4 linked regions of the Homo sapiens genome follow. The protein of the gene in region 3 purifies or fractionates together with the protein of the main gene of each other region. This does not show direct contact. Each region holds a gene or a part of one and is shown on either strand. Other genes may lie near its edges.

Region 1 (7,026 bases), on a different chromosome or scaffold from region 3:
CTATTTTCATTTCTATGTGAGGTAAGGTGACTTGGTTGTTGGCAGTCACATGCCAGTGTCAATTTTCTTCTCATTGATGTCTATAAACTGTCAATATTCATGAATCCAAATTTCAGTATGTACCCAACCAAATGGTAAATGAAATTTACTGTAGAATTGTTGCTTCTCTGCAGCTAGTACAAACTGTTTTGGAGATTCTGTGTTGGCACAGAGCAGAGAGGAAAAGAACTTTAGGGAAAATAGTGTGAGTCTTAAAGAGGGCACATAAATGGCCTTAAAATGAATAAAACATTAAGATGAATTCGTTAACTAAAATAATAAAGATGTTGCCAGCCATATGGAAAAATATGTTATTCTTTGAAAAATTGACATTTTAATTACGTTTTTTTAAATGTCCGATTCATATAATGATCAGAAGTTAACTAAGAATACTCTATTTCGAAAGTTTTATGGAGCACGCAAAGTGTCACTTTCTAGTTTGGAAAGAAAGGGATTTTGTTGTTGCTAGTTTAGGAATATGCTGGGTTTAATTATTACAGGATAATTAAAGAACTAAAGCTAAGAATGTATGTGTGGTTTTTGTTTTTTTTTTTTTAACCTTTTACTAACTCTTAATGGATATGTAACATTTGCATTAGGATCTTGGATAGAGTTACTTAATAGTGGATCAGACAACTTTCCAGATAGGGAATCAAAGTGAGACTCGCTGTTTTGAGACAAACTAGTTCAGACTGTATATAAAATCATTTGTTTTATATAAAGATGCATTTCAGGTTCTTTAGTGGTAATAAAATAGTTACAGTATAATATGTTTTCAGGCAAAAAGTCTGTCAGAATGGTCTTTAGCTGCTTCATTGCCCACAGGTTAATTGGTATAAAAACTTCCTTGACACCACTTTTAAATATATTTACATACACACGTGTGTATGTGTATGTGTGTGTGTATGTGGGTATATTTGTGTATATACATGTTTGTACATACATTATGTGTGTGTGTATATACGCTTTGTCTTATCTGTAATGGCCAGTGTTTGAAGAAGAAAGAAACTAGACCCTATAGATTAAAATCTTTGAGGATTTTTCAAAGCTTTCCATGGGGGAGCATTTCTTACACCCCACGTAAGGAAATATTGGTCTGGGTATTTCATGGACTATTGTGTTCACTCGTTAGCTGAAATGATCAGCTATCCTAAGACTAAATACTAGCCTAATCATTAGCTTTTTTAATTTCTTAAATTCCTGAGATTGGGATTTCATGTACTAGTAGAATTGTATTTTACAGGCCCAGAGCAATGGCTCACGCCTGTAATCCCAGCACTTTGGGAGGTCGAGGCAGGTGGACCACGAGGTCAGGAGTTCAAGACCAGCCTGGCCAACGTAGTGAAACCTCGTCTTAACTAGAAATACAAAAATGAGCCAGGCATGGCGGCTCACGCCTGTAATCCCAGCTACTCTGGAGGCTGAGGCAGGAGAATCGCTTGAACGCGGGAGGCTGAGGTTGTAGTGAGCTGAGATCACACCATTGCACTCCAGCCCAGGTGACACAGTGCAAGACTCGGTCTCAAAAATAAAAACTGTATTTTACGCAGTGACAATTCGGTAATATAGTCCATGATTTAATGAAACAGTAGTGTGGGATTGGATTTTTGATATTTGTTTTGTTTTAAAATTCTAGAAGGAGTTAGCTTTTGCAGCCCGTTCTGATGAATTTATTGTCTTTACTGCAGGAATGTATTTTGTAATTTTTTTAGATATTACAAAGTATGAGGAAAGCTTACAAGTCTACAGAAGTGCTGTGTGTTCTCATCAGTAGATTTTAGTTGTTAAAATTAATTACTTTGAACTGAGATTGCACCACTGCACTCCAGCCTGGGTGACAGAATGAGACTCCATCTCAAAAAATAAATAATAAATAAAATAAAATTAATTACTTTGAATAGGTAATATTGCCACAGTTTAAAATTCAGAAGTCCCCTTCGTACATCAGCCTCCAGCTACTAAATTCTTCTACCTGGAATCTAATAACTGTTATTAGTTTCTCATTTATTACCTTTTAATAAAAGATGAATTTGGGTTCTGGAAATAATCTTGACATGGGAGTTTTTGAAAATAGATGTATTTTTTTTCTAGTTATTGGAAAAGTCACAGGACTGTTTTGAAGTGCTGAAAATCTAATTGTGATATTTATAGTTCAAGAAATTTAATGAATGCATTAATAGATTTTGCTATTCATTTCTACTCTGAGCTAATCTTGTAGAATAAAAACCTAGTCTCTCTAATCCCATATTTGTGGGATAAAAATCTTATCTATGACACACATATATATGTACCCACATATATATACATATATATGTATATATGTACACACGTGTGTATATATATACATGTACACACGTGTGTACATATATACATATATATGTATATATATGTACACACGTGTGTATATATATACATATATATGTGTATATATGTACACACGTGTGTATATATATACATAAATATATATATCTCCCCACCGGCAATATTTTATGTAATATTATACGTACTGAATGATTTCAATTTTTAAAAACCCTGCAATTCCATAAATACGTGTATATATATACATATATATGTGTGTATATATACGTGTATATATATACACGTGTGTGTGTATACGTGTATATATATACACGTGTGTGTATACGTGTATATATATACACGTGTGTGTATACGTGTATATATATACACGTGTGTGTATACGTGTATATATATACACGTGTGTGTATACGTGTATATATATACACGTGTGTGTATACGTGTATATATATACACGTGTGTGTATACGTGTGTGTATACGTGTGTATATACGTACGTGTGTGTATACGTGTGTATATACGTACGTGTGTGTATACGTGTGTATATACGTGTGTATACGTGTGTATATACGTATATATGTGTGTATACGTGTGTATATATACGTGTATATACTTTTTTCTCGACACTGTACTGATGAGGAATGAGCTGTATATTTATAATATGCAGCAGCCAGGAGACACTCCTTGCTGTTCTAGTCAGGAATGCTAGTTATACTTTCTGTGGCATTGTTCTAGCATGTGATATTTTAACTTCATGGATCCTGTGCAGTCTTAATAGAGGAGTTCTGCACAAGAAACATGATTTTTCCTGTTTTAGGAAGTAAGTACTGTGGGGTACTACTCTGTCATCTGGTGGCTAACCCTTCCAAATGTATCCCATGAGAGGAGACAGTGCCACTCAACCTTTTGGAGGCAGGAAGTATGGGAGCTGTAAAAAGAGCCTATTTTCTTAAAGCTTGGAACTTACTTGAGGGATAGAAACAGAGTAGTGTTGCTATTAGTGTTAAAGTTGTGCTGATGAGGCCTAAGAGCTCTGCTGATAAGGCCTAAGAGCTCTTATCCTGCTTTTCTCCCTTTACTGGAAATTCTGACAAACCCAAGAGAAGGCCAACCAGCTTGGAGACCTACTAGGTAAGGCAGGAACCACAAGTAGTTCCTGATCTGTTAGTGAGAACCCCTAGTTTGAGTATTTTCTCAAGTCCCCCCGCCCCCCACCGTTTGTTTTAACTTTGAAAATAACCAGTTTACAGTAATGAGCTATTTCAACATGAGGTCTTTTATTGTCCCCCTATTTATCCCTGATATTAAAGTTACTCTTATTTTGTTTCTGTCTTGTCCCACTTATCTTTGAAGTATTACTCTGTTTTAGACCTTCCAATTCACTGATTTATCAGACCTTTGAAATATATTCTTATCTTCCACAGAATTATAGTATGTGACTTTGTTGGCAAAGTATTCCCCAAATTGTAGTTGCTACCCTGTGAAAATAAAATTATGAAGATACACTATAAGGAATGAGACAGTATGATGTAAAGAGCTCAGAGTTAAAGCTAGCTAGATATGGGTTCTAATCCTGACTACACATCTGATTAGTTATTTAACATTTGGTGAGCAATGTTACCTCTCTGAGCCTTACTTTGTGATCTTTCAAGTGGGAATCACACCTGCCTTATAGAACATTTGTAAGGATGAGAGATAGTAAAGTTCCTAGCACATGATAGATATTTAATAAATGATAGGTCTTTTAAATATAAAAAGTAAGGGATTGTATCAGCTGTATATAAAATTAAACCCAAGAGATAAAATTCAATCTGTATGACTTGTTACAACCTCAGAGAAACTGATTTGTTGAAGCTTATACCAATTCTTTTTTTTTTTTTTTTTTTTGAGACGGAGTCTTGCTCTGTCGCCCAGGCTGGAGTACAGTGGCGCGATTTCGGCTCACCGCAAGCTCCGCCTCCCGGGTTCACACCATTCTCCTGCCTCAGCCTCCTGAGTAGCTGGGACTACAGGTGCCCACCACCACGCCCGGCTAATTTTTTGTATTTTTAGTAGAGACCGGGTTTCACCATGTTAGCCAGGATGGTCTCGATCTCCTGACCTCGTGATCCGCCCGCCTCGGCCTCCCAAAGTGCTGGGATTACAGGCATGAGCCACCGTGCCTGGCCCCCTTATACCAATTCTGTAAGAGATTTTATTACTTTTTTTTTTTAATAAATGAAGAAGTAGAGGCTCAGCTATACAACAATGAAGATGCATAGTAAGTAGCAAAAAAATTTCAAAATTGATTTATATCACCTAATCTTTCTATAAACAAGGAAAGATACCAAAATACATTTGGCAGAATGTTTGTATAACTTTCAGGGGATGCAATAACCTGCCCCTTGAAGCAGATCTGTCCCCTGTTCTATACCATCTGTCCTATTGGAGATGGCTGCACTAGTCTGATGCTATTGATTGTTGACTTATCTGGTTTCACATTTTTCAAGTAATCTTCTGATTATAATTTTACCTCTCATGTAGATTTGTCTCAAGATGAGACTCTACTGATTGACCAGCATGTTTTTCCAGTGTGTTGATGAGATCATTAAGCACTCATTATACAAAGAAGGGTAGATTTCCCCTGAATTACTCATAAGTTATGAATAAAGGGTATTAACTGATTTTAGCTCATGGTTGTAGGCTGGACTATTTCAGAAGGAGAAAAATGTGCGTTAAATTAGTTTTAGATTTCAGTGGTAATTTTGACTGGTTTGTGGACTAAATATTCTTTTCTCACCATGGTTTGGTGTGTTTCTTATATGTGTAGCTTGGAGTTTTTATATATGTTTGGTTAGCATAAAAAATGTGCTTAAACTTAATCCTTAGAAAATAGAGAAATGAAACCAACTAACTTCCTTTACATGATTTATTTCAGTTGAAGGCAAATATCAAAAATGTTTATTTTCCTTTGAAAATGAATGCATTAATTGCATTTAAAACGTTTTTTAAACACCCCGAATAAGATAGCATGTTAAAGCAAGTGTGAGTTCAGTATGTTAATTGCTTGCTCTCCCAGTTTCTAAAAACCCCGTTGTTAAATGTTTTGTTCTTTTTAACAAATGAAGATCATGGGGCTATGTTCAAAAAGGGGAGAAAATTGTTTTCTTCCATGTGGTGACTAAACCTTAAAAAACATTAAGGAATATTTTCACATCTCATGAGAGAAGAGGTGTCATTCATCCTTTTTTTTGTGTGAAGAGAGCTTTTGTATTTTCTCATACTTAGAGATTATTTGAAGGCTAGAAATGGAGTAAGAATATGTACTTTTAGTTATTTTTCTGATAATAGTGATAATCTCATTTTTACTCTTTTTTCCTAGTGAACAACACTCCTTTTCCAGATGGTTGAGTTGAATTGTGGCAAAATCTTTGTTGGAAATTTTTCTTTTTTCTTTTCCTTTTTTTTTTTTTTTTTTTTGGTTTAAGACACAGTCTCACTCTGTCACCCAGGCTGGAGTGCAATGGTGTGATCTTGGCTCACTGCAACCTCTGCCTCCTGAGTTCAAGTGATTCTCCTGCCTCAGCCTCCTGAGTAGCTGGGATTATAGGTGCACACCACCATGCCTGGCTGATTTTTGTATTTTCAGTAGAGACGGGGTTTCCCCACGTTGGCCAAGCTGATCTCAAACTCATGATGTAAAGTGATCTGCCCGCCTAAGCCTCCCAAAATGCTGGGATTACAGGCGTGAGCCACCTCACCCGACCAGAAGTTTTTCTTTAGTGTGAAATTAACTGGCCACTGTGTGGGTTTAACCTTTGATATTGGTGTCTGTGTTACTGTAGTGTAACCAACTGACTTGAATCAGTTTAGCCTTTGCTGATTTGCCAACTCTACTTGGGTTTAGATACAATAATTCTTTTTTATATCCAAGCATTGATTTTTCTATCTTCCATTCATAGTATATTAACATACTGTATATAAGAACATGTGGCTTTATGAGATTCTAACACTTAGTAGGAAAGGGGATGGGGAAGAGGAAGAGCATGTAACTATTTTTTATTCCCTTGTTATATATTGAGATGGACAACTTTGGTATGTATGTTACTAGTTATTGTTTCTTCCCACATAATTGGTCATAACTTTTTGAAAAAAGAAAAAAACAAGCTTTAAAGGGAATTAGAAGTGAATAAAATTTAACAAATGAAAAGTAGGAGTCTTTCCAGACTTCTATCATAGTAAAGAAGAAATATCAAAGAAGATTTGTTGAGAGAAATAGAAGTTGGAGTAAGGCACTATATTTTGAAAGCTAGTATTTTTAGCAAAGTGTTCTTATGGTAAAGGAAATTATAGACTCACTCACTTTATTTCATATAAGGTCAGCAATACATAAAAGTAGCCACTATACTACTTCACACTTACATATGAATGACTGATGTCTTCATTAATTCTCTGAAAGACATTTGCATTTTTAAGAGACTGATTATGATAACTTGTCAAATTTTGGTATTTTAGGCCAAGTAAAAGAGGGAAGCGAAATTAAACAATTGGGCGGGGCATAGTGGCTCATGCCTGTAATCCTAGCACTTTTTGGGAGGCTGGGTGGGGTGGATCGCTTGAGCCCAGGAGTTTGAGACCTGCCTGGGCAACATGGCGAAACCCCGTCTCTACAGAAAATACAAAGTTAGCTGTG
Region 2 (7,026 bases), on a different chromosome or scaffold from region 3:
TTTTATCCATTAGGCCCAACTGCAGAAGCCTTATGTACAGTAATTCAGCTTTACCCCATTTGATCTTTACTGCAAGTTGAGGATCAAGTGGTATTTAAAGCATGATGTATCTATTGCCACATCTGTCTAGTGCTGAATCAGGCAATAATGCTTAAACATTTCATTGCTACCAGTTGTTAATGAGGCAAAACATGAGAAAGATGGTTAACTATGCATGCAACCAGTTTCTTAGAGATCATTGTTATTACTATAATCAACCGTTTATATAAAACAGCAAAGTCTTTTTTTCTCATAAAAAAGATACAGTCTGTGGCACTTGTTGTGCCTTTCTTACAAACTGTTTGTTAACTGCCAGTCACTCCCTAGTAGTTAACAATCAATCTGTTACCAATCTAAGTTCAAAACATTGTCAGATGTGTTTATGATTTTGGTCTGTTGCCCATAGCTGGGACTTCCCTCTCATTCTCTGGTTTTTAAAATGGCAGGATGTCAAAGTGTACGGCAAAGGAAACCCCACAAAAGTGGTAGCTGTAGACTGTGGGATTAAAAACAATGTAATCCGCCTGCTAGTAAAGGTAAGTAATTTGTTCATTTCAAAGGTGAGGGTTTGTCATATTGACCATTAGTGTTCAGCTAATTTCCTCTGTCACAGAGAAACTTATGCATTCTTTCAGAATGTCAGGGGTCTACATTCTTCTTGTTGCTTTTGATTTACAAAATAACACATTTATCCCTGTTCAAATTAAAAATATAGACTGCTATGTTTTTTCTTTAAAAAAAAAACCTCAAGGGCCACTAAAACATGGAAGAAAATGATGACTGTTCTTGTCATTAATTGACTGACAGTCTGAGATGCATCATGTTCACTTTCTTTGTGGTATAGAGATGACCAAAAAGCTAGAGTCTGTCTGATAGCATCTCCTTTGGGCTTACATTTATTTTGTACCACACGTTTGTAGGAATCATGCCCTGACAGAGTACGAACTTTCACATTGTTTTTATATCAACTCTTAGACAACCAGTTAAAATTAAACCTTAAAAATTCTCAAGGAGAACTTAACCATCATAATAATGTTTCTTAAATAAAGTTTTGTTAGGATTTTTCCTTCTCCTCACTCCTCTCTCAGTCTGTCTCTGTCTACACATCTCCCCTCCATACACATACACACACATACACACATATTTGCATAACACCAAATTAGCATGCGTATTGGGAGACTCTTCATCGTACCTCCTTATTAGAGAATACCAGCAATATTCAAATCATGATTTCAAATTCTTGTCAATTTTATTAACAAACATTTGCATGGATAGCATGCATGGTAGCAGATGCTGTGGATGGCCTGTGTATATCTCAATCTCAAGTTACCATTTTAATTCATGTTGCCCATCTTCCAATTGCAAATATCTATATCTCTTTGCCTGATGGCTGGAGCCTACTGGCAGGCAGTAAATGGCATAGAATTAATGATCTCTGGAGTAGCCCCCAACCAAAGCACAGAAAAAGCCAGTGTTTAACCACCCTGGCTCCTTTGTCCCATGGATAGGCAGTCTCTAAGGTAACTATTCCACACGGGCTCTCAGAGTTCCCTACTGGGCTTAAACTTCACTTATCCCTAGTGGTAACTACTTGCTAATGCATAATTTATTGGGGTGTTTCATGATGTCACTTCCTCTCTGTTTAGTATGGAAGTACCTTCCAAATAAGCTTTTGTTCTCTTAAATCCTTGTTTCAGGAAATGCTTCATGGGAAACCCTCAAAGACACCTTCCTATGTGCTTTTATATTAAAAGAAATTTCTAAGTTTTCCATTCGAATATAAATCTTACAGAAAATGAGAAAACCCTAGGAAAGAAGGCTGATTAAAATTTGATAAGACTAAAAGGCAAGACTGAAAAAGGTCTGACGTGGGCCAACTTAACATTTTCAGAAAATGGATTTATATCTTTTTGCAACTGGTCGTGTGAAGGTAACCTACTCTCCTGTCAGTCCAGTCATGGCATTTGTAGGCACTGAAACTTCTCTTGAGTGCAGGAGAGTGCATTATCCATTTTTTCAGGATCAAAACTTTTAATGGTGTTTATTTTTATTTTTATTTTTATTTTGAGACAGGGTCTTACTTTGTTGTCCAGCCTAGAGTGCAATGGTGTGATCTTGGCTCGCTGGAACCTGTGACTCCTGGACTCGGGTGATCCTCCCACCTCAGTTTTCTGGGTAGCTGGGACCATACCTGGCTAATTTTTGTTTTATCTTTTTTGGTAGAGATAGGGTTTTGCCCTGTTTCCCAGGCTAGTCTTGACTTCCTGGGCTCAAGCAATTCCCCCCTATCTTGAGCTTCCCTATGTGCTAGGATCACCGGCATGAGCCACCAAGCCCGGCCCCAAAGAAATTTTTGCTCAGCATTATTTATTTTAAATGTTTACAAATTTTTCCTTCCCTTTAAGGAATGGTTAGTCAAGAGAAAGTCTAGCAAAATTATACTTTGGCAAAGAAACATGTTATTAAATTCATCATTCTTGTGTCTCTTTTCCAGCGAGGAGCTGAAGTGCACTTAGTTCCCTGGAACCATGATTTCACCAAGATGGAGTATGATGGGATTTTGATCGCGGGAGGACCGGGGAACCCAGCTCTTGCAGAACCACTAATTCAGAATGTCAGAAAGGTGCAATGAACCTTGAATTCATGTGTATCTGTGTGGGAGGTGGGGGCTTCCGCTCTATACCCTCAAAGGGCTGTGATACATTTTATTTATTCAGGCATTTTTCAATGCTGGTATTTGTGACTTCTGAGGCAGTGTCAGTAGAGATATTCTGTAGGGGAACCAATGAGGAGAGAATATCAGAGAAAATAGGGTTTTTCTTCAGGCAAAGTAACTTGGGGATCATGTCCTTGAGTTAAAAGAACTGGAGTCCAATGGCCAAATGTATTTTGCTTTACAGTTTTAAACCGACAACTCATGGTTCCTTATCATGACCTTGGGACCCATAAGACCTGCAGGTCTCTAAAGAAATATTAAATTAGATTTAGTTTAGTTTGAATGTAAAGTACATCTTAATGAATTATAATGCTACAAATTTGTCAATTATGTCCTTTTTTATATTCTTCTTTAATTCAGTTACTATTCTCTTTACCTTCTTAAGAAAAAAGGATACCTCATTTTTGTTCATTCAGAAGCAACATTTTTTGGAACTGTACTAATTGGTTAATAAAAATTCTCCCTGATTTAGATTTTGGAGAGTGATCGCAAGGAGCCATTGTTTGGAATCAGTACAGGAAACTTAATAACAGGATTGGCTGCTGGTGCCAAAACCTACAAGATGTCCATGGCCAACAGGTGAGGTATTTTCACTTTTGCTTACAGTAAACCAGCTCTGACATACTAACTAAATACAAAGAACTCAGAGCACTTACCTGCCATTTCTTTAGAGTAAATAAATGCACATGTACCCTAAAACTTAAAGTATAATAAAAATAAATAAATAAATAAATAAATAAATAAAATAAAAAATAAAATAAATAACCATACCTTACGTGGTTGACAGTTGTTTGACTACCTGATACCACTTTTGTTGCATTTTTGGAAAGCAGCCTTCTCTAATGATAACCTTGCTATAATTTAAAGTTATTTTCCTTCCCTTGGCATAAATTGAGGTTATAATACTCAATCAAATGATATTCCAAGGGAAATTGTTCTGATTTTAAGCTTGATTTCAGAACATTGTAACATTTTAAGAAGGTAAGTGTGACTTAAGAGCCGAGGAACCTTTAGATCCTCTTGGTTTCTCTTTTTTGCCTCAAACAATATTAATTTATTAAACATCAGGCTTTTTCCCATGGCCCACCCTCTACATAAATTATAATTCAGGTCTGAGCAGTCATCTCTTTGTTATCTCCCTATAACTCTCGGGCTTTAAAATTATTGTAGTTCTCTTAAAGTAAGTCACTTATATTTCTTAGTTTCTGTTAAGCCGGTGAGCAACCCTTTTTGTTATGAGTGCAATGCCCCCCTTTCTAAAACCGATTATAGAATTTAATAGACCTGCGTATTTAACACACAACAAAGCTTCCTGAATTGATTTTTGTTGGGAAAATTACTGGGATTAACAATCTGTGACTTTTCTCACAGAGTGATTTTCACTAAGCAATTGAAATTTTGAATTTTAATAGGCTTTACTTGTTCACTACTTTATAAGGAATACATTTATATTATTCTCTTCACTTTTCCTTTTCCCTATTCTTTTTCTCCTTTTCTCTCCAGAGGGCAGAATCAGCCTGTTTTGAATATCACAAACAAACAGGCTTTCATTACTGCTCAGAATCATGGCTATGCCTTGGACAACACCCTCCCTGCTGGCTGGAAACCACTTTTTGTGAATGTCAACGATCAAACAAATGAGGTAAATGATGTCAATAAACCTGTTCAGTTGGTGATGAGAAACGCAGGGCTTTTAAAAATAATTGATACATAAGCATTGTATATATTTATGAGATACATGTGATATTTTGATACATGCATATCATATGTAATGATCAAATCACACTAGGATAACCATCACCTCATTTTTTATTTCTTTGTATTGAGAACATTTCAAATCTTCTCTTCTAGCTGTTTTGAAATATGCAATAAATTATTCACTCAGAATATTCACCCAGAGTTTTTAAATACACTATGATGCAAATACCTTTCTCCTGTTTGTTTGTGATTTTTTTGGGGTTGAGTGTTGAAAAACAGCTATAGGTTTTCTCCCATAGCCCTCTGTGTTTTAAAACGTCATTTCTCTCTCTTATTCTCTCATCAGTTGACTTGTTAAGATTCACTATTTGAGTTATTAATCAACAACTATCTCATATATTCAATGTTAGTGGGCTGTTGGTCCAAATCTGTTTGAGCCCCATCTGGGTGGGTCTCTGGGACTTACTTGGCACTGGTGTAGTGTTTGAGAAGACCCTTGGAAAAGTAATTTCGGACTTGGGGATAAGATGAGGACTTGAGTTTACTCTGAACAGAACCCAGAGGGGTCCCAAAGACTATAGACCAAATTTTTTATTTATTTATTTATTTTAAAGGAAAACACATTCAGTTGAGTCTTCATTGACCCATTTTCCATACTTAATCAAAAAGGTCAGATATGTAAGTCCTTAAGATATCGGACCATGTTACTTAATAGTACTGTTAGTTACAAAAATTTTGTTAAGCATCTAACTCAGTTTTTAAATTTGAGCTTTATTGTTCCCTGAATAATACATAGCCACACTTGACATTCATTGTTACAGAAGGAATTTCTTCCTGTTTCTTATTCCTTTAGGGGATTATGCATGAGAGCAAACCCTTCTTCGCTGTGCAGTTCCACCCAGAGGTCACCCCGGGGCCAATAGACACTGAGGTACGTCAAAAAGATGAGGCCTATTATGTATGCAAAAAAAAAATGTATTTGTGTGGAAATTCGAGAAACCAAAATAATCACCCCAGATGATCTTGAGCAGAACATTCTCAAGAAGAGTGCTTTGGTAACACACATTTTGTATTAAAATCTCCCCATGAATGTCACAGAGGAAATTTTTATCTTTTTTAAAATTTAAAGTGGGAAAGCCCTTAAGAAACCCGAAGCGATGGTATTTTTATTTAAACCCATTATCATTCTAATATATTTAGTTCTGAAATTTACAATTGTTGTACTATGCAAATGAATTCCCTTTTGCTCTCTCTCGTTCTCATGACTGAAATGAAATTTTAATCCCCCATCTGTGACTTCACAAAAATCCCTATGGCAACTGGTTGTGTAGCCACTAAGGGAGAATAAACAGCAGCAGGAGAAGGAGGGGAAGGGTGTTGGAGGGGAGAGAGGGCATGCATGCACATACATAGATGATTCAGACGGCTTCAGAAAAGAACCACAAGGAATGCTTAGAGGAGTTTTGTATTTAATCTAAATATTTTTACTTTTTTGTGTGTGAGCTCTTAGTTCATTGTTCAAACCCATCTTTCCAAATAAATTCTTCTGGTGATATCCAGAAAAATCTGAAGTCTATTGTGACTTCCCCACACCCAGGGGCCTCCAGTAGCAAATCTTCATTGTCAGAACTCTCAGAAAAGACTTCGAGGTAAAATGGGGAAGAGAATAAGAGCTTTCTTTCTGCAAGCTCTGCTCTACTCTCTCATGTCTGAATTGCCGTTTTAGATATTTATATTTTGTTCTTGTTTTAATATTATTAGGAAATATTGGTTCTTAATAGCCAAAATCAGTATTATATTACCAACCCATGATGAAACTCATAAATCAAATTTAGTTATGTGTATCATCTAACACATGCTAAGTAGTTTTTTAATTTAAAATTTAAATTAGCATATATTAGTACTTCGGATTAGGAACATTGCAATTAAGATGTAATAATATCCACTGTCACATAATTCTCCTTTTTTGTCTTTCCAATAATTGCAAAATGAATATTCTTTGTTGTAATTTGTCATATCTAGTGAAACAACAGAAGTAAATCCTTTGGCAAAGATTAAGAATAATCTTCAGAAACTGTTTTTTAGAGCCGATAGAAATTTAAATTTAAATTAGTATTTCTAATTTTCTATATCATAAGTGATATAGCTTCAATTGTTATATCCACCTAGAATTTGATTTAGAAGAAACAAATGATATACAATTTACTAAAAACTTGGCATTCTCAGAAGGTATCTGATATGTTTACTGCTTGTTGGAAACTTCTTTTTTATAAGACTTGAAGTGAACAGAAGTGTTTATTTGATTAAATTCTCACACTAACAGATATTTAGTTATTGACAAAAAAGCAAAAAAAGCTGAAATGCTATAATAAAAATTATTTGTTGCTTATCTGAAGTTCAAATTTAACTGGGTATATTGTGTTTTATCTGGTGAACTTAGGAATTTTGAAGCTTCTAACTAGTTGGTTGTATTTTTTTCTAGTACCTGTTTGATTCCTTTTTCTCACTGATAAAGAAAGGAAAAGCTACCACCATTACATCAGTCTTACCGAAGCCAGCACTAGTTGCATCTC
Region 3 (7,213 bases):
GGTAGCTGGAATTACAAGTGTGTGCTACCACGCCCGGCAAATTTTTGTATTTTTAGTAGAGACGGGGTTTCGACATGTTAGCCAGACTGGTCTCGAACTCCTGATCTTAGATGATCCGCCTGCCTCGACCTCCCAAAGTTCTGTGAGTACAGGCGTGAGCTACCATACCCAGCCCTCTCCTGCTATCTTAGATCCAGGAGTCCAGGCTCCAGTTTCCTCATTCCCCAAGGGCCACAGTCCCCTCCTTCCTCATACCCAGGAGTCAGGGCCCCACACCCCTCTTTCCCAGGGCCAGCTGCACTCACACTGCAGGCTCAGTGTGATAGCTGTGTCTCTTCCTGTGGGCAGGGCCTGGCTCCGGGCCCGGCAGACAAAGGTGGCTCCATCATCATGGCTGAAAGGGGTCAGGGTTAAGGTGCTCTCCACTGACCCAGGGGTCCCTTCCTTCAGCAGGGTCTGGAGGGAAGGATAAGAATAATAATGCCATCTACCCATCAGGGGTGTCCAATCTTTTGGCTTTCCTGGGCCACATTGGAAGAAGAATTGTCTTAGGCCACACATACTAACACTAATGATAGCTGATGAGCTAAAAAATTACAAAAAAGTCTCATAATGTTTTAAGAAAGTTTATGAATTTGTGGTGGGCCACATTCAAAGCCATCCTGGGCTGCATGCAGCCCATGGGCCGCAGGTTGGACAAGCTTGCCTTACTTATATAGTGCTCACTATGTATTGGTCACTCTTCTGGGCATTTATAGGTATTTATTTATTTAATTCTCACAATACCCTATGACATGCATGCTACTATTATCCTGATTGTATAGATAAGGCAACTGAGGCACAGAGAGGTTAACTAACTTACTCAAGATCAATCAACTAGCAAGTGGCTGAGACATAATTTGAACCCAGGTAGTCTGGCCCTAGAATCTTTACCCTGCATCATATTTCAAGAGTCCAAACCCATGAACCTCTGCCCTCCCATGTCTTCTTCTCTTCTGGATGAGCCTGTGGTCAGAGTGTAACCCAAGTTTCCCTCAATGGGCAAAGGCTAGCACAGGAATTTGGACCTGACCTGATGGAAGGTGGCTCCATCCAACAGGACCCCATCTCGGAACCACAGCAATTCAGGGGTAGGGCGGGCATCCCCACGGCTCCGACATGTCAGGTTCGCAGGAACTCCAGCAACCAGAGACACAGAGGGGCCGCCCAGCACCTGGGGGGCTTCTGGGGGGACTGCAAGGTGGATTTGGGGTCAGAGATGGATCCTGATCTTCTCAGCTCCAATTGACCATGCCCCTGGGCTCCCTGGGCTCTGCTACTCACAGCTAGTACGGGCTGCCCTCTTGGGCTCCCAGGGGACAAGTGGGCGAGGTCCTTACCCAGCACGTGCAGTTGGGCTGGTCTGGAGCGGAGGCCTGCTTGTGTAGCCTGACATTCATATGATGCTTCATCCTCTAGCTCCACGGGCCTAATGTGGAGGTCATGCTGGCCATTGGCTGCATTCCCTGATATCCAGTACCGGGACCACCCTGGAGTCAGGGAGAAGGCAGTCAGCACACCATGGTTCTGAAATCCTGGCCTCAGGCCTCCATCCCCAGACATCCTCCACCAGAAAACTGGCCCACACATTTGGTGGTAAGACACTATTAAAAAGTGTGTACTGGGCCCAGAGAGACTCTAACTCCCTCCCAACCCAGAGTCACTGCAAACTTAGGGGTAATAAAGTCAGGAAGGAAAGCAAGAAAATGATTGCCATAAAAATTAGGTTAGATACTACTTCTGGAGTGAGGGGGAGGGGGCTATGATAGGGGAAAGGAACACGGGGTCTTCTGGGGAGCTAGCAATGGACTTGGGTATTGGCTGTGTGTGTCTATTTTATTTGGTAAATCTTCCATTTATATTTACTGTACTTTTTTGCATTTATGTTCTCTTTTTTTTTTTTTTTTGAGACAGGGTCTCACCATTGCCTGAAGTGCAGTGGCTTGATCATGGCTCACTGCAGCCTTGAACTCCTAGGCTCAAGCAATCCTACCACCTAAGCCTCCTGAGTAACTGGGACTATAGATGCACACCACCATACCCGGCTAATTTGTTTAAAATATATATATACATTTGTGTAGAGATAAGGTCTTGTTATGTTGCCCAGGCTGGTCTCAAACTCCTGGTTTCAAGCGATCCTCTGGCCTCAACCTCCCAAAGCGTTGGGATTACAGGCGTGAGCCACTGCACCTGGCCTATGTACTATTTTGCAATAACATAATAATTCCCAAACTCCGTGGGTCACCCCCAAAGAAGCAGCTCAAAAATCAGGACTCCTAAATGTTTACCCGAGCCCATCAATTTCCCAAACTTGAAAATGTCAAAATAGAAACTGCAGGTACAGCCGAGCCCAGCAACTCTCCCCCTAGCCAGCCCGTCCCAGCGTGGAGAGAACACTCTTACCTGGTAGGTCCCTTTGGCCCCCTAGGGCCAGCCCACTCTTAGTCCACTGAACTAGCCCCCAGTAGGCGCCCAGAGCACACGGCAGCCGGGCTTCCTCCCCCAGCAGCACCACCAGGTCCTCTGGCTGTTGCAGGAAATGGGGCGACGGGCCTAGGAGAGTTCGGGGCAGCAGGGCTGAGCTTAGCACCTTCAGGGGCCTCCTCATTCAGGACCCAGGAGTCCCAGCCCCCAGCTCCCTTCTCGCTAGTGAAGAGGCAGCCCGCAAGCAACTCCCCACCCCCACCCCATATTCCTCCGCTCCCCTCGTGCGGTACCTGCTCTCCCTCTGAAGCAGAAGAGGAGGACGAGGAGGGCGGGGACCCGCATCCTGAGCATTCGTCCCCCAAGGTTCACGAGATTTGCCGTCGCACTGGCCTTCCCGTCAACTTCTTCCTCTCAAGCACGCCTCCTGTCACCCTGGCCCGGAGCCCCCTTCACGCTCGACTCTTCGCCCAGCCTAGTCTCTGGCCTGGAGTCCTCCAAGTCTGCTCATCCGCAGCCTCTGACGCTCTGAAACGCCTGCCAGTTCCGCGGCCTGGGTCTCTGGGAGACCCCAAGAGGGCCCGATCCCGCTCGCCCCGCCCGGGTCCGCCCCCCGGGAGCTCCGCCCTCTTCCCGTTGAGAAACTCCCGCGGCTGAGACGCGGATGAATGGGGGACGCAGGGCGGGATCCCCCGGCGGGTGGGCGCCCCCAGCTCAATTGGGGTCTGGGAGCCGGAACACCTGGGTTCGAGGAGGGAGGGGGTCCCGGCTGGGTTGGACACCTGCGCCCTGCCGGGGTTGAGGGGCAGGCAAGGGGTGAGGAGGAGGGAAGGGAGAGAGTGGAAGAAACTTGCTCAGCCCAGGTCCTAGAGGGACTGCGCTCAGTGGAAACTGAGCTATAAATGGGAGCTCCTGGGGCCTCGCCAGTTTCCGCGCCCTGGGGGATGCGGGGTCCGGGGCTCCCCCGGGCCTGCGTGTCGGGAAGAGGGCACACCGATACCTGGGGGACAGTTGGGACCCCTACCTCGACTCCCCCAGCCTCAAAACCCCTCCTCAAAATATCCCTCTGTTCCCTTGTTATTGCTGCAAACTACAGCACGTCCTAAGACCCAGGAATCCAGGCCCTCGGCCCCTCCTTTCCCAGGACCCCGCAGTCCCAGCCCAACCCCTCTCCCCACTCGGCCGGCCGGGCCCCTCGGCCTGGTTGCCCGGCGACGGCTGGGAGGCGGCGGTGCCGGGCCGGGGCAGGCAGGGAGGCTGGGAACCGCGCAGCTTGTCCTGACGGCTCCATGCAGCCCAGCTGGGGCGTTCCCACGCTGCGCAGCTGGCCGAGCAGGTGGGAGGGACCCCGAGCAGCCTGAAGGAGGGCTGGGGGGCTGGGACCCTGATCTGACATTCCTGGACCTGTAAGAACTGGAGGGTCCACATTCAGATTCTCCACTGTTCTTAGGCTCAGACTCCGTGTCCCTAAATGGGGGAGTGGGGTTGGGAGTGGGGGTTGGACTTACAGGGTTATAAGGGACTGGTGGTTCAGGCCTTTGCTGGCTGAGACGCTGATGGCCTGATCTCCCGGTTCCTTGAGAGGCTGGAGACTCAAGGTGCACTCAAGTGCATGGTGCACTTGGAAGAGGGTGACAGGGGTCAGAATATCTGGTCTTAAGTCTTAAGAGTCGGTGGATCTATCTGCCAATCTCTCCCCACCCCCACACAGGCCCAGGAGGATTTGGAAATCAGACCGTGAACATCTGTCCTAAGTCCTGTGTGTATGTGTGTGTGTGTGTGTGTGTGTGTGTGTGTGTGTGTGTGTGTGTGTGTGTATGGGGAGGTGCGGGGGTGGGTAGTGTGGCCAGGAGGATCAGAGGCCCAAATTCCCGAGTCCTTGGAGAGAAGGGACTGAGACCCCAGGGTCTGAGAGGGGAGGGATCTGGGGGCCTACACTCCCGGCTTCTGTGTGGCTTATCTAGTGCCTGGATTTTGAAATAGGATGGACATGGGGCTGGAACTCCTGAGTCTTAGGGAGGAACTCAAGTCATGGGGCTGTTTTTCCAGGCACTTGACGCCGCTTCCCCTTCCTGGCTCTCTGGGGCTACGGACATGGAAAGATGGAGAGCCCAAGGTCCCAGGAGCATGCAGAGAAGGAAAACAGCCAAGGTGGAGGGTGGAAGGTTTGTGCTTATTAAAGGCCCCAGCAAGGGACAGCTCCACGCTCTGGCACCTAGGGACACCATCTGGCGAGGGCCCCCAGGACAGAGCCACTCCCCCAGCTCGGCATCCAGCCCATTTCCCAGGGGGTGTAGAGAGCAGTTGGGAGAGGGGAGGTGGGAGGAGGGCAAGGAGTCAAGCATGTGAGGGAAGATGGAAGTCCAGCATCGAGGATGAAGCTGGGGGCTGAGGCCAGATGCCTCATCTTGTTCCTGGGAACGATATTGGCGGGGGTCTTGGGGAGGTAGGGAGAAAACTAGCATTTCCAATTCCCGCAGGAGATAAGCAGGCAGAAGAAGCTTATCCCAGGCAAGTGTATGTGCACGCGGGGAGGGCAGGCCCACCAGCATATGGTTATAAAATCCAGGGATGTGATGAGCAGAGCCACTCGGAGATGGAGAGACACATAAGAGAAAGAGGCGTGGTCAGAGTGTGGCTGAGAACAAATATTTATGGAGCTCCTGGTGTGTGTGAGACAGACTGTGGGGTGAGGGGAGCGACAGAGGTGAGAACAGAGACAGAGAAACAGAATAACAGAGACATATAGAGATGGAGAGACACAGTGAAATAAAGATTGACTGAGATTTAACAACTTAATATAGAGAGCGAGAGAGTCTCAAACAGATGGAGAAAGATAGAAAGATAAATCAGCTGGGCACAATGACTCACGCCTGCAATCCCAGCACTTTGGGAGGCCGAGTCAGGCTGATCACCTGAGGTCAGGAGTTCGAGACCAGCCTGATCAACATGGAGAAACCCCGTCTTTACTAAAAATACAAAAAATTAGCCAGGCGTGGTGGCGCATGCCTGTAATCCCAGCTACTAGGGAGGCTGAGGCAGGAGAATCGCCTGAACCCGGGAGGCAGAGGTTGCAGTGAGCCGAGATCACACTATTACACTCCAGTCTGGGCAACAAGAGTGAAACTCCATCTCAAAAAAAGAAAAAAGAGAAAAAAGAAAAAAAAGAAAGATAAATCAAGGGCCAGGTGCGGTGGCTCATGCCTGTAATCCTAGTACTTTGGGAGGCCGAGATGGGAGGATTGCTTGAGCCCAGGAGTTCCAGACAAGCCTGGGCAATATAGCAAGACTCTGTCTCTGCAAAAACATTTAAAAAAAATTAGCCAAGTGGCGGGGTGCAGCGGCTCCCACCTGTAATCCCAGCACTTTGGGGGGCCAAGGCAGGTGGGTTACCTGAGGTCAGGAGTTCGAGACCTGCCTGGCCAACATGGCGAAACCCCGTCTCTACTAAAAATACAAAAATTAGCTGGGTGTGGTGGTCAATGCCTGTATTCCCAGCTACTCAGGAGGCTGAGGCAGGAGAATCGCTTGGACCTGGGAGGCGGAGGTTACAGTGAGCCAACATCGCACCATTGCACTCCAGCCTGGGTGACAGAGCAAGACTCCCTCTCAAAAAAAAAAAAAAAAAAAAAAAAATAGCCAGAGTGGTGATGCGGGCCTGTAGTCCCAGCTACTCAGGAGGCTGAGGCAGAAAGAACACTTGAGCCTAGGAGGTTTGAGGCTTCAATGAGCCATGATCACACCACTGCACTCCAGCCTGGGCAATAGAGAAAGACCCTGTCTCTACAAACAAATTTTAAAAAATTAGCTGGAGTGGTGGTGTGCACCTGTAGTCCCAGCTATTCAGGAGGCTGAGGCAGGAGGATCACCTGAGCCCAGGAAGTTGAGGCTGCAATGAACCAAGATCATGCCACTGCCCTCCAGCCTGGGCAACAGAGCAAGATTCCATCTCAAAAGAAAGAAAGATAAATCAAGATAGATAGAGGGAGGGAGAGAGAGAGACATGGAGAAGGAAAGAAGAGATGGGAGAGAGGGCAAGAAAAAGAGGGAGAAGAAAGCTCATGCAGTCCTTGCCAAAGGGCGCCCACTTTGGGCTCACACTGCACCCACACTGGGGGCCGGTGGAATTGGACTCTGCCTTTTACTCCCGCCCACACCCTGTGCACTCCCACGTAAGACACTGTCACACACACGCTCTCCACATGCTTATTACAGATCGCAGTTCACTCTAACCTTCCCCACTCTCACACCCACGTACACACATGCATATCTTCCCTCTCTCCCACACTCTCCCAGCCTGTCACACTCACTCTTGCATCCTCCCCAGCAGAGATCCCTGACATCATTTAGGCACTGATGTCTACTAAAAAAGGAAGGGAGGCCAGGTGCGGTGGCTCATGTCTGTAATCCCAGCATTTTGGGAGGCTGAGGCAGATGGATCACCTGAGGTCAGGAGTTCGAGACCAGCGTGGCCAACATGATGAAACCCCGTCTCTAGTAAAAATACAAAAATTAGCCAGGCATGGTGCTATATACCTGTAGCACCAGCTACTTGGGAGACAGAGGTGGGAGAATTACTTGAACCTGGGAGGTTCAAGCCATGGGAGGTGGAAGTTGCAGTGAGCCGAGATGCCACTGCACTCCAGCCTGAGCAACAGAGCAAGACTATCTCAAGAAAAGAAAGAAAGAAAGAAAGAGACTTGCCAAGGTCATGTATCAGGGCAAGGAAGAGCTGGGGGCCCAGCTGGCT
Region 4 (7,488 bases), on a different chromosome or scaffold from region 3:
GCCTGCCTCAGGGCCTCTATCCTCCCCACTCCTGTGTTTTTCCTCTTTGCTGGAAATGCACTTCTCCTTAAAAGTGACCTTTTCAAACAGGTCTTTTTGTTTAGAAGTCACCTTATCAAAATACCTATCTTGAACCACTTTTTAAAAAATAGCAATGCTTTCCAACCAGCCTTCACTGTCTCTTCCTTTAACCTGCTCAATTTTTCTTCAGTGTGCCACCTGCCTTACATTATTTATTAATTTGGTATATATGTCTATCTCCTCCATTAGAATGTCCATTAGGGAAAGGACTTTGTTTTCTTTACCACTCGATTTCAAGTACTTAGAATAGTGCCTGCCACATTAGAGGTACAAAATAAATATGAGATAATTAACTAGGTGAATAGATAAATAAATGAATGATATCACCAAGATATGTTTCAAGTTCTTACACAAACACAATATTTGGCCCAGTGTCTACTATAAACGGTAGAATATTTCCTCAAGTCAACACCAAAAAGGGATGTTATAATAAAGCAGGTCGGACAACAGTCTCACATTACTGAATAACGATACTGATCTGATGTTGATGATTGCTTCTTTACTTTTTTTCTTTTTTTTTTTTTTTTGAGAGAGGGTGTCACTCTGTTGCCCAGGTTGGAGTACAGATCACGGCTCACTGCAGCCTCAACCTCCTGGGCTCAAACGATCCTCCCACCTCAGCCTCCCTCGTAGCTAGGACCACAGGTGTACGCCACCACGCCCAGTTAATTTTTTAATTTTTTGTAGAGACAGGGTCTCGCCAGTTGCCCAGACTGGTCTAAACTCCACCTACCTCTGCCTCCCAAGTGCTGGGATTATAGGCATGAGCCACTGTGCCCAGCCTGATGATTATTTTCAACAGGCCTTGTGTTTCCTAAGCCCCAAAAGCCTTCCCATTTCTCATTCCACTGCCATTTGAGACCCATGGCCACCTGATTGAAACCTCAAGGTTTTGCTAAGAATTTATGAAGAGAGTTAAGAAATCTCTTCAAATTGTTCCTATGAGGAAGTTATTTCATACTATGAGCAAATTCATTTTCATTAAGTATCTGTTGTAACCAAACGTTGTTTCTTAGCTTCTTAGCTCTGTAATATGGCACAATAATCTGACTTACTGAAGCCACTCATTATTTCCCATTGGCTTAATTCTTTCTTTCTTTTTTTTTTTTTTTAGAGATAGAATCTCTCTATGTTGGCCATGCTGGTCTTGAACTCTTGGCCTCAAGAAATTTTCCCACCTCGGCCTCATAGACTCTTTCTATGTTGGCCATGCTGGTCTTGAACTCCTGGACTCAAGGGATCCTCCTACCTTGGCCTCCCAAAGCTCTCACGTACCAGCACCCATTGGCTTAATTATTTCAGTAAAATCAGGCAAGGAGGAACCCTACAAAATAAACACAGGCATTCTCAAAGCAGATATAAGTGAAAACTCAGAGTATACTGTGGTCAGCTGTGTTCTCTATCACAAGTAGTTTGTCAACTTAAAATAAAGTACTAAAGTTTGGGAATGATCTACTCTAAAAATACATCGGACAATGGTCAATGTCATTTACAACATTCACCTCCTTTCTGATACACATCTCAGGAAAAAAAAAAAAAAAACTACTAAGTACCAGGTCAGAAATTTGGCACAACCCTAGATGACCACCTTGTCATGCAAATAAACTTAGAATGGTGCTCCTGAAAGTCAGCCACAGTGCTTCAAAAACACATGATTTTTTAAAACACCAAACTAAGCATACCACATAGTATAGAGACCAGGCTATGGAGTTGAGACCACCTGGGTTAGAATTCCATTTCTTTCCATTTAGTTGCTGTCACCTTCCTAATTTCTCTGTGTTCCATAATTCCATATTATCCATAAAATTCAGATATGAACACTTACTATACAGAGTTGTTATGAGGATTGGACAATGTATGCATCCCACAAGTAGATCAATTACAAGTACATTTTGCCCCAAGTAAAGACAACACGTGGGAACGCTGTGCAAGAGGGAACAGCAAAAGCAGTTGGAGGATGGAAGTCAGTTTGCAAACCTATGCGCACAGGCAGCCAAACACGAAAACGTTCCCCACAAGTAGTCTGTAAATTGGAGACTCCATTGGGATACACACACACACACACACACACGCCCTGAGAGGAAATAGCACCTTTCTTCATCACCAAGTTAGCCTTAAAAATTATTTACCCGTTGTTAGCCACACTAGCACTGACAAACCCAACTTTACTCTTGTAGGTCATTCTCCACAACGTCTGTGCTGCGTCAATCCCAAATCTGACTCCCTGACGCTTAACAGCGAAAATAAAAAACCGAGACATTACTCAATAGAGTTAACCCTTACTTAACAAAACGCTGTTGTCCCCTGTGGCGTGCAGACAGTAGAGACAGTAATTCCCGACCTTATGCTTGTCAGTGACGGCATGCCCTTTGTATACACGCTTCAGTAGAGAACGACTGCAGTAAGTAAACTGCTAGTAGCAACACTGTTCCCCTATCTAAACTTCCCCTTTCCAGAGTTACTGATGTCCCAACATGGGTCGGTCGCTCAGTCTCCGTCAAGCCCGTACCCCATAGCTTGGGCATTTCCCCCCGCAGATCACAAGATGCAAAGGGGAAGTTACTACCAAACCGACGAGAATGGCCCAGAGCTGGGGGCTGCCAGGCGGTTCCTGGGCCCCTCTCAGCACCAGAAGAAGGCGGGCGCAGGCTCGCCGCGGGTCGGCCGCACGCCATACCTGGATCAGGCCCTGCTGGAACAAGGCGCTGTGCACGCAGCCAGGGACCGCCCCGGGCAGCTCCAGCGAGCCGTTCCCATTGCAGATGCTCCAGTTGCCACGCAAGCTGTAACTGAGCTCCGCGGCGGTGGTGCCTGCACCGCACAGCGCGAGCAGCAGGAGCAGGTGGAGGCGCATCTTGAGATCCCGCGCCACCGAGATGTGGAGAGATCGAAAGGCAGCGCTGCAAGGGACCGGCGGTGAAGCCACTCACCCCCTCGGAAGTAGCCGAGGCTTTAGGTCCCCGCCCCGGCCCCGCCCCTAGGTCAGCTGAGCGCTCTCCGGGCGCAGCCGCGGGCGGGAGGGGAACGAGGAGGCTGCGCCTGCACCCGCTGAAAGCCGGGCGTCGCGGGTGCGGGAGCTGCAGCCCCCGAGAATAGCTACAGGCTGGGGGGCATTGCGGTCTGAGCCTTCCCTCGGCGCTTCTTCCCGCCGCCTCAGTACATACAACTGGAGGCAAGAATCTTGCACGGTAATTGGGACAGAAAGATCCCTGGGCGCGCAGTGGCACAAAGCCTCGGGAGATCAGAGACCGACTGTACGTGGAGACCATAGCTGGAGAGTCCCCTCACTCCTTCAGAGAACCCAAACTGGGAGACAACCCACCACTTCCCTTCCGCCAAATTTACACAGACCCTCGTCTACCTGGTAGCGTAACACTCACCCCGCTGCAGCTCAACTCGCGGGTCTCAGAGCCTACCCCGCCCTTCAAAGAGTAAACAAGTACTAGCAGTATCTCCATCAGAAGGTTGTTCTGAGGGCTAACCAAGAAAATGCGACTATAGCATGCAGCATGGAGCCTGGCCCAGAGAAGGCATTCACGTTAGCTATTGTTACTAGCGGCCTGCGTCCTTATGTTTCATAAAGCCCCACGGAGGTTTCTGAGGTTCTGGAACCTGCACTAGGCGCGCAGCTGAGTTTAAAATCCTCTGCACTCACTAGCTGTGGGACCTGGGCAAGCCGCAAAATCTCCATCTCCGTTTCTTGAAGTTTTCAAGGTGTTATAAGTATAAAATGAGTAAACATATGTGATCGTCCCTAACAATGCCAGAGTACCCAAGAAATACCACTGACTTATTTCGGGTCTTGTAGTCAAATGGTCTACCTGAGTCCCATTTTTGCAATAGGATGTAACAGTAATCCTAGAAGTTAAGACGGAATTTTACATTGCATAAAATAGACTGCCTTTCTCCTGTGTTGACGCTATCTGCCGTATATTTATGCTTCGGAAGAAGTCCTTGAAAAGAAATTTTCTCTCATCAAATCTGAGCTTTGTTTCGCCTTACAATGGCCTTGGAATTGCCTGATTCTGCAGACACCGGGCAATATCTTACTTTGCAAAGTCAGCATTATTTACAAGCCCTGAATATCTTGGCTTAAAGGACAGTATGGATTATCCAACCCAAGCCGCTGGCTTTACAGATGAGGGAACTGAGTTCAAAGAGATCGGGGCCAGGCGCGGTGGCTCACGTCTGTAATCCCAGCACTTCTGGGAGGCCGAGGCGGGTGGATCACTTGAGGTCAGGAGTTCGAGGCCAGCCTGGCCAACATGGTGAAACCCTGTCTCTATTAAAAATACAAAAATTAGCTGGGCGCGTGGTGGCACGTGCCTGTAGTCGCAGGTGCTCGGGAAACTGAGGCAGGAGAACCGCTTGAACCCAGGAAGCAGAGGTTGCAGTAAGCCGAGATGGCACTACTGCACTCCAGCCTGGGCTATAGAGAAAGACTCTAAAAAAAAAAAAAAAAAAAAGATCAGGTGACTTGCCTGTCACATAGTGGCAGACAGGATTAGAACCCTCCTCTTCAAGGTCCTACTGTCAGAGCCCAATGATGCTATAGGGGAAACGCTCTCACTGCTTCAAAGCCTTCCTCACTCACTCCAGAAGCATTTTTACCTTTGATAGAAACAAAGCTCTCAATTCAAATTATATGCCATAATTCACGGCATTAAATGGCTAGCCATGGTCTGTGCAACACTGATAACACAAGGTTTATGGCAACAAGAGCGGCAAAGGAATTTTTTCATAATTCCCAGAGATTTCATTAAGCCAAATCAGAGGAAAATTCATCCTTGATGATACATATGGATATATTCTGTTTATTAAGAAATATAATTTTTAGAAAAACAATAATAGAAGATTCTCATTCCTCCTTTCATTCCAGGATGCAAGCATAACATCATTTAGGTTACTTCACTTTGACAACAGAGAACATCAAAGAATAATCAAAGCCCTAATAAGTACTCTTCCTAAAATTGCAATTGGCACAGATGACATGATGTTTTCATTTTGTTATAGGATAATTTTTGTCCATGATTTTCTGGTAAATAAACCTTATTTAGAGATAACATAAAACTTCTCAACTTATGTAATTTAAAGTCATGATACCAAATGCAATGTTTAAAATAGTTATGGGTATCTTTAACTTACACTGTATAAACAGATTTCATTTTGATCATTTCATTTGATGCTTCCCAAAACTTGAATTATTTAGAACAAGTGATCGTTCCCTGGTTTAAAAAGATAAATAATGCCCACGGTGATTAAATGATGTGTAGGGTCAGTATCCTGTCACAACAGACCAATGGAAGTAGTTAGGCCCTTTGCTATATGACAACATTTCCTTCATATCTAAATATATAAAATTGGTAAACTCATTAGAACACCATGGTATATACCAAGGCCAATGATATTCCAATCCCATGATATATTACAGAAGTTATAATAAGGGAAAGAAAATGAAAGAGTAATCAGATGTGGAGTGGACATTTGCCTTTAGACTCATAGTGTCTGATTAAACCCCAGGACTGGGGATAATAGCCCATAAGTATCCTGCCCAAAGGTTTGACATACTTCCCCAGAGTTTGAAGCCCCAAATGTTAGAACAAAGAGAGAAGGTAGTGGAAACTATGTACACCACTAGAATTTGGTGTGTCAAGGATGCATATGCATGAGTTTCCTATAAACCAAGAGGACACCGTAGGAAGTAACCAGGCTTGAGCCAGTATAATGGGATTCTACCCAAGAGAGTCCAAGAAGTCAACTAGAGGACACATGGCCTATGTCAGCAAACTGTGTATATATATACATATACTGTATATATACATATATACATATACGTATATATATACATATACTGTATATATACATACATACATATACTGTATATATACATATATACATACATATACAAATATATATTTTAAATATATATAATTTATATAATAATATAAATATATAAAAATATATAATATAATTATATTATATAATATAATTATATAATTAGGAATATAATATATTATATTCCTAAATAATGCATGGGTCAAAACAATAATAGATTTCCAATTTCTGGCCTGGCATGTAAGGACCTTGGAAGTCATCACTCTATCCTAAAAAGCAAGTAAAAAGCTGCACAAATTGAAAATAGACAACTCTTCTTAGATGAGTCAAAGAAGTGAGGTCACAGGGCAGACTGCTGCCCCAAAATTAGAGATGTAGACAGGTAGATACAGGCAATTACAACTTAACTGAGTAGACCACACACACTACCCCACAACCGTTGTCCCATAGCTGAAATCTCAGTGGGAACCAGTACAGAGTAGGAAGACCTGGACTATAATTGACAAATTACTGGAGGACCAATATGCACAAATTTGAGAGTTAAAAACTCCAAGGGGGCCCAGTCTTAGGGGAGCAGCTGTGCTTTTGTAAGTTTGCCTCCAGGAGCTCCACAAAGCTCTCATAGTGAAGATTGAAGAAAAATCCTCTCGTGTTTCCTGCAAGGGAGGAGGAAAGTAACTATTCTGAATGTGCCAGAGATTCTGTGCTTCTTAACAAGACCCACTCTCAAAAGAAACAATTTTACCAGAGCTGAACCAACTGGGGTTTTATCAGAGTCTCGCCAGCCTGGGAGAAGGAAAATACCCAACTCCAGCCCCCCATAGACATTCTGCCCCATCTAAGGGGGTGAAACATAGCTGAGAAGCACTGTGAAGTTCACAGTCCAGGGGACTGGGCTCACTAGATGACTGAGACCTAATCAGAGGAAAATAGACCATTTTCCCTCTCCCAACACCTTCCCAACACATCACTGAAGGCCTATTTATGGCAATTCCTTTCACCCAGGATGTCATGTATGGCTTTCAACAAAAATTTACAAAGCCAAAGATACAACTTGGAAAGACAAAGCAAATGCCAAAACCAAACTCACATATGGGAGGAATGTCAGAATTATCAGTCCAGGAATTTAAAATAACTATGATTAATATGCTGAGAGCTCTAATGGAAAATTTACACAACATACAAAAACAGATGGGTAACGTAAGCAGAGACATGGAAATTCTAAAAAATAATAAAAAATGCTAGAGATGAAAAGCACCATAACAGAAATGAAGAATGGCGTATTAGTAGATGGAACACGGCTGAGAAAAGAATCTCTGAGCTTGAGGGTATGTCAACAGAAACTTTCAAAACCAAAAAGCAGAGAAAAATGTATGCAAGAAATGAACAGAATATCCAAGAACTGGGGGACAACTACAAAAGATATTGTCAATGAAAAGAGTCAAACTCTATAAATATTTGAAGAGATTTATTCTGAGCCAAATATGAATGACCAATGGCCTGAGACACAGCCCCAGGAGATCCTGAGAGCATGTGCCCAAGGTTGCCCAAGGCTACACAGCTTGGTTTTAT

What was found.
Region 1: the proteins of KIRREL2 (region 3) and FBXO11 purify together in Homo sapiens (affinity purification with mass spectrometry; 3 studies listed by BioGRID and IntAct, with this or other methods). This does not show direct contact.
Region 2: the proteins of KIRREL2 (region 3) and CPS1 purify together in Homo sapiens (affinity purification with mass spectrometry; 3 studies listed by BioGRID and IntAct, with this or other methods). This does not show direct contact.
Region 4: the proteins of KIRREL2 (region 3) and MANBA purify together in Homo sapiens (affinity purification with mass spectrometry; 3 studies listed by BioGRID and IntAct, with this or other methods). This does not show direct contact.

The regions. Positions count from the first base shown.
Region 1 is NC_000002.12:47,896,489-47,903,514, reverse strand, and holds part of FBXO11 (F-box only protein 11), read left to right. Parts: intron 1-7,026. UniProt on the Homo sapiens protein: Substrate recognition component of a SCF (SKP1-CUL1-F-box protein) E3 ubiquitin-protein ligase complex which mediates the ubiquitination and subsequent proteasomal degradation of target proteins, such as DTL/CDT2, BCL6, SNAI1 and PRDM1/BLIMP1.
Region 2 is NC_000002.12:210,587,573-210,594,598, forward strand, and holds part of CPS1 (carbamoyl-phosphate synthase [ammonia], mitochondrial isoform b precursor), read left to right. Parts: intron 1-485; coding exon 486-575; intron 576-2,533; coding exon 2,534-2,662; intron 2,663-3,227; coding exon 3,228-3,334; intron 3,335-4,258; coding exon 4,259-4,397; intron 4,398-5,306; coding exon 5,307-5,384; intron 5,385-5,782; exon of another isoform or gene 5,783-6,102; intron 6,103-6,935; coding exon 6,936-7,026. UniProt on the Homo sapiens protein: Involved in the urea cycle of ureotelic animals where the enzyme plays an important role in removing excess ammonia from the cell.
Region 3 is NC_000019.10:35,852,724-35,859,936, reverse strand, and holds the start of KIRREL2 (kin of IRRE-like protein 2 isoform c precursor), read right to left. Parts: upstream 3,027-7,213; 5' UTR 2,818-3,026; coding exon 2,757-2,817; intron 2,593-2,756; coding exon 2,443-2,592; intron 1,530-2,442; coding exon 1,380-1,529; intron 1,234-1,379; coding exon 1,073-1,233; intron 457-1,072; coding exon 306-456; intron 1-305. UniProt on the Homo sapiens protein: May regulate basal insulin secretion.
Region 4 is NC_000004.12:102,757,960-102,765,447, forward strand, and holds the start of MANBA (beta-mannosidase precursor), read right to left. Parts: upstream 3,010-7,488; 5' UTR 2,936-3,009; coding exon 2,759-2,935; intron 2,494-2,758; exon of another isoform or gene 2,365-2,493; intron 1-2,364.